2 separate regions of the Homo sapiens genome follow, and region 1 is linked to region 2. Evidence: fine-mapped expression QTL. Tissue or cell type: tibial nerve. Region 2 holds a variant in brackets; the other region holds the start of a gene. All regions are shown on one strand. Distances are from middle to middle.

What was found. PIP is the estimated chance that this variant, and not a neighbour inherited with it, causes the effect.
Region 1: it holds the start of ADAM10, and the variant in region 2 is fine-mapped to the expression of ADAM10 in tibial nerve (GTEx, PIP above 0.99).

The regions. Positions count from the first base shown.
Region 1 is chr15:58,748,254-58,750,937 of GRCh38, reverse strand. ADAM10 (ADAM metallopeptidase domain 10) reads left to right here and starts at 1,231. Exons shown (of 16, transcript NM_001110.4): 1 at 1,231-1,458. The coding sequence starts at 1,404. RefSeq lists enhancers at 612-791, 1,882-2,011, 1,463-2,098 and silencers at 862-1,151, 1,482-1,771.
Region 2 is chr15:58,540,231-58,542,914 of GRCh38, reverse strand. LIPC (lipase C, hepatic type) reads right to left here. Exons shown (of 9, transcript NM_000236.3): 3 at 948-1,130; 4 at 264-381. Among named protein-coding and RNA genes, the nearest start is that of LIPC-AS1, 43 kb to the right of the region's middle. The variant A/G (reference allele first, on the strand shown) is at 1,372.

The DNA.
Region 1 (2,684 bases), 210 kb before region 2:
GGAGGCCGAGGCGGGAGGATCGCTTGAGTTGGAGGTTACAGTGAGCTATGATCACACCACTGCACTTCAGCCTGGCGAGACAGCGGATACCTTGTCTTTAGAAAGCAAAACAAAACAATTTACACACACACACACACACACACACTCTCCCTAATTCGGCTTGAGTTGGAGGTTACAGTGAGCTATGATCACACCACTGCACTTCAGCCTGGCGAGACAGCGGAGACCTTGTCTTTAGAAAGCAAAACAAAACAATTTACACATACACACACACACACACGCACACACACACTCTCCCTAATTCGGCCTACTCAAGCACGATACCAAATAGATGAAGAATATCTAATTAAATGGCCATAAAAAGTTCTAGTTCATGACATCCAAGTTTAAAGAATCAAAATGAGTTACGAGAAAACAAACACAAGCTTTAAGAAGTTGGGGAGAAGATGTGCGTGGATTCGCTTCAAAGATGTGACAGAGAGAAAAGAGGACATTTTCTGGACTGGAGATTCAAGACAGTCTGGTTCAGGTTGCATGCTTTTGCAAAGGCTAAAGCCTTAGTCTGTGACATAAATTTGTAAAGAGCTCGGAAAATTACATCTCGGACATGGTGTCTTTTTTTCCTGCTGCTTGAAGGTCTTTGCATTTATGTTCGCATCACTGGGGCAGCTGCCGCTATAATTACTGCTTGTTGGGACTTTTTGTTTACTTGGTAGCTGTGGTGCACCAAGAGAGGCAGAAAAAGAAGAAAAAAAACCTCTGTTACTTGTGACGTTAAGAAGTCGAAAGCAGCCCTGCTTACATCTTCCACGGACCATTTTAGCCCAAGGGAAGGTCCTCAGCAGCTCTAACACGTAGCGGAGCACTATCTCCGCGTAGGAGCGCTCCCGCCCCGGGGCGGGACCAGGACAAACCCCGCCTCCCAAGCCCAATCCCAGCTCTCCGCCGGCGGACAGGAAGCGGCGGCAGGCCTAGCAGCACGGGAACCGTCCCCCGCGCGCATGCGCGCGCCCCTGAAGCGCCTGGGGGACGGGTAGGGGCGGGAGGTAGGGGCGCGGCTCCGCGTGCCAGTTGGGTGCCCGCGCGTCACGTGGTGAGGAAGGAGGCGGAGGTCTGAGTTTCGAAGGAGGGGGGGAGAGAAGAGGGAACGAGCAAGGGAAGGAAAGCGGGGAAAGGAGGAAGGAAACGAACGAGGGGGAGGGAGGTCCCTGTTTTGGAGGAGCTAGGAGCGTTGCCGGCCCCTGAAGTGGAGCGAGAGGGAGGTGCTTCGCCGTTTCTCCTGCCAGGGGAGGTCCCGGCTTCCCGTGGAGGCTCCGGACCAAGCCCCTTCAGCTTCTCCCTCCGGATCGATGTGCTGCTGTTAACCCGTGAGGAGGCGGCGGCGGCGGCAGCGGCAGCGGAAGATGGTGTTGCTGAGAGTGTTAATTCTGCTCCTCTCCTGGGCGGCGGGGATGGGAGGTGAGGCACGACTGCGAGCGCCGGGGGCGCCGCGACCACGGCGGAGCGGCGGCCGGGCCGAGCGGAGCCCAGTCGCGCCTCGCGGCGTGCGCGTCAGTCAGCCCAGCCGGCCAGCGGCGCCACTCTGGCGGGCCGCGCTCCCCGCTCCCTATTGTCCCCCGCGCCCCGACCGCTTTCCCTTCGGTGGCGGGCCGAGGAGGCTCCCAAGCCTCCGGCGAGGCCTTCCCCGCCCCCCACCGCCCTGGCGGCCCCGGGAGGCGGGGGTCGCCTCCCAGAGAAGCGAAGTCGGGGCATCCGCGTCGCCTGGTGAGAGCGGTGGAACCCAGGCTGGTGGCTGCATCCCTCCAGTCTGCTCGGCGGGCGCCGGTGCAGGCAGCCGCAGCGAGGCTGGCGGTCTCGCCGTCCTCGTTCAGCGCTCATCCTGCTCACCATTCCTCCCCCAGCCCCTGCCCGGTGGCGGATTCCGAAGTCCTCTCCGCCGCCGAGACCCGCCGCGCAGACTCGTGGGAAGTTGTGTTGTTTGCAGCTGGGCTCGTGTATTGTTCTTTACCCGGCGCGCCGGTCCTGACCGACCCCATTCTGCAGAGGGGCCGCCCGTGGAGTGGCAGCAGTCATCACCCGCTTATCTGAGACTAGTGGCCTCGGTTCTTCCTGTGTCCTGTGTTTGGAGAGAGATCACAGGAGGGTGTGTTGGTGTTCTTGAAAACATTCTGTCGCCCAGGGGAAAGGGTTTGGTCGGGAGAAGGGTAAACCATTTGGGGATGTTCTTTGATTTGTAGGCTGGATTGGGTCTCTTAGAGTAGAAGTTCGGTCCCTGGGTGACCCAACTTGAAGAGTTTCGTTAAACTTTCAGGTGGAGTAGATGTACAGTGTAGTTAGTGGATTGTCAAAACAGTGCCCCCTCCCCCCTGCACATGAAAGTCAAATTTGCTAAAAGCATGTCATTTCTTGTTTCGGGTTTTGAAGACAACGATTTTTATTTCCGGTGTGTTCTAGGACCAGCTGCATCATTTTATTCTTGCTTAAAGTGCTTTATTTTAGGTAAGCTTTTTGACTTGCCCCAGAGTAAACTTAAAAACCTCAAGGTGTGCCTAAAAGCAACGATTGAAAAAATTTGAGGAATGCTTTGGATGAGTGTCTGTAGCCTTTGATAATTTAGAAAATATCTATTTCATGTAATGTATTGTTTCTGTTTTTTTCTTTGCCACTTTGACTTATGACTGCAG
Region 2 (2,684 bases):
TTAGTCCCATTTGGCACACCAACATGAGGTATTCGTTTGAGGGCAGGCAATAGGAATTGAGGCTATAATTTGCTCTGAATTCTCTGGAACAGCAATCCATGACATTGGTCATGTTTGAAAGAATGTCACAAGTCCTCTCATGAGCGCTGATCCCTCACAATAAGTGTTGGGGTGTTTTAATGATGAGCCTGTTGGAAAAGCAGGTCCTTGTTGGATGCCCCTATGGAGTGGAGATCAGTGTGTGAGTTATTAGGCATGGTTACCTGTGATTCTCCCAATCTTGTGCGTTCCACCGATGGAACTGCCGGCAAATCCTGACACGTGTGCACCCAGGCTGTACCCAATTAGGTGAACATGGCTTCGAGAGAGTTGCACAGATTCCTGGAAGACAGCAGCGGGATGGGGGCAGGAGAAGAGCTGCCTGGATGAAAGCCTTTTGCGGTCCAGTGTGTTGTGGCGCCCACCCTGTTCTTCGTGCCTGCTCAGAAATGAGGTGCCTTATTCACACTCCAAACTGAAACTAATCTCTCAACTGGCTGACTCTCCTGGGACTCAGGTACCTGTGACCTCGCCTTGTAGCTGCAGCCTCCTGCCTGCCTGTCTTCCCCTGGACACTAATGCCCTACAGAAGTGATCCCACTCATTTGTGTGGGGGCTTGATAGCTTACAGGGTGTGTTTGTATCCCTTAGCATGTCTAAGGGGGTGAGCATAAGAGGAATAGTGGATGAGGAGAGGGGAGAAGGTGGTTCTGTGAAACAGGGGTTCAAGGGAGGCGTCTGAGAGAGCCCTGGGGTCTGGTGTCAGTCCTGTGCCTTCTCATTCCTGTGAGCTGAGCATTAGTGCTTCTCCTGCCTGGGCTGCTGTTGGAGACCAGCTTAATTCATTCACTCTCAGAGGAAGGGAAAGGAGGGAAGGGAGGTGAAGGAAGGATGGGGCAGGTCGGTACCTCCAGCCACCGGAGAAGAGCCGCGACCTCCTTGCCCACAAGGCGGGTGTTGCGGACGGCGATGGTGTAGTGGTCGTGGGCCAGGGTGATCCAGTCCACCAGCCCCACGTTCACTGGCTGGGCCGGCTGAGACTTCAGCGCGGCCACCATCTGCCAGATCCAGTTTTCTAGCACGCCGTCCACCTGAGGAGGGGACAGAGGGAGGGTCGCACTAGTTTCCTTTCTCCCCGCTCACCCTTCTTCCTTCTCCAGCTCCTGGATAATGCTGGAGGAAGGGCTTGCTATGACGTTTCTCAGCCATGCACAGTTGACATTTTGGGCCAGAGAATTCCTTGTTGTGGGGGCTGTCTTGGGCATTGTACGATGTTTAGCAGCATTCCTGGCCTTCACCAACTAGATGCCAGCAACACCCACCCACTGCCCC[A/G]GGTTTTGAAAACCAAAAATGTCTCCAGATTTTTCCAAACGTTCCCCCCCGCCCCCTCCCGAGAACAATTATCTTAATGTTTTTCCTCTTAGGGACTTTCTAAACCTTAAAACAGTGGAGAAATATGTGTAAATCAGGTCCTGGAAGCTGACCTGTCCCTTAGGGCCATTTGTACGCCTCCTTCTGCGTGCAGCTGCCCCACCTCACCCCTAAACCCATAGCACTGGCTCTGCCCTGCAGACTGCGTTATGCTGGACTTAGCGGGATGGGCACTGTGAGCCTGACATAGTAGGAGGTAAAAAATGTTTACAGAGAATTGTTCTGTGTGTGTGCCTTGTTTGAGAACCAATTTGCAGGGCACTCCTAATGGATTTACAGAGCAAAGACACTTGTGCTGGGCCTTAAAGGATCAATAGGAGTCCAGTAAGACGAATATGGGTGGGGGCTGGGCGCGGTGGCTCATGCTTGTACTCCTAGCACTTTGGGAGGCCAAGGCAGGGGGATTGCTTGAGCCTAGGAGTTTAAGACCAGCCTGGGGAACATGGTGAAACCCCATCTCCACAAAAAATACAAAAGTTAGCCAGGTGTGATGGTGCATGCCTCTAGCCCCAGCTACTCCAGAGTCTGAGGTGGGAGGATGGCTTGAGCCTAGGAGGTCGAGTCTGCAGTGAGCTGAGATCACACTGCCCTCCAGCCTGGGCGATAGAGTGAGACCCTATCGCAACAAAACAAAACAAAGAAACAAAAAGAATACAGGTGGGCAGGTGAATGTGGTAGTGGTGAGGTCTAGGGCATCCCAGGCAGAAGGAACAGTGCGTGCAGAGTCACAGAATCATGAAAGGGCAGTGTGGTATGTCAGGGGAGAGGAGGAAAGTTGGTGAGGTGAAGGCTAGACAATAGGAGGTGAAGGCTTGACAATAGCGGGTGAAGCTGGAGAGCTCCCCTGAGGGCCTGTCATGCCATTCCAGGGTAAGATGCATTCCTTTACTAGATATTTACCAAGTGCCTTCTATGTGCATGGAGCATCTTGGGTTCAAATCTAGGCTCTCCTAGTTTCTAGCTGAGTAACCTTGGGCAAGTTATTTTTCTCTGTGCTTCAGTTTTCTCACCTGGAAAATGGGGTTAATAATGCTCTCCTTCCAGGATTGTTATGAAGGAGAAATACGTTAATAGATCTAAAGCGCTTAGAGCAGTGTCTGGAACATAGTAAGGACTCAACAAATGTTCGTTACTGCAGTTGTTGTTGTTATTAATATTAGCAGTAATAGGAGGAGGAGACATATACTAGGTTGGACAGAATTTTGATAATGAAG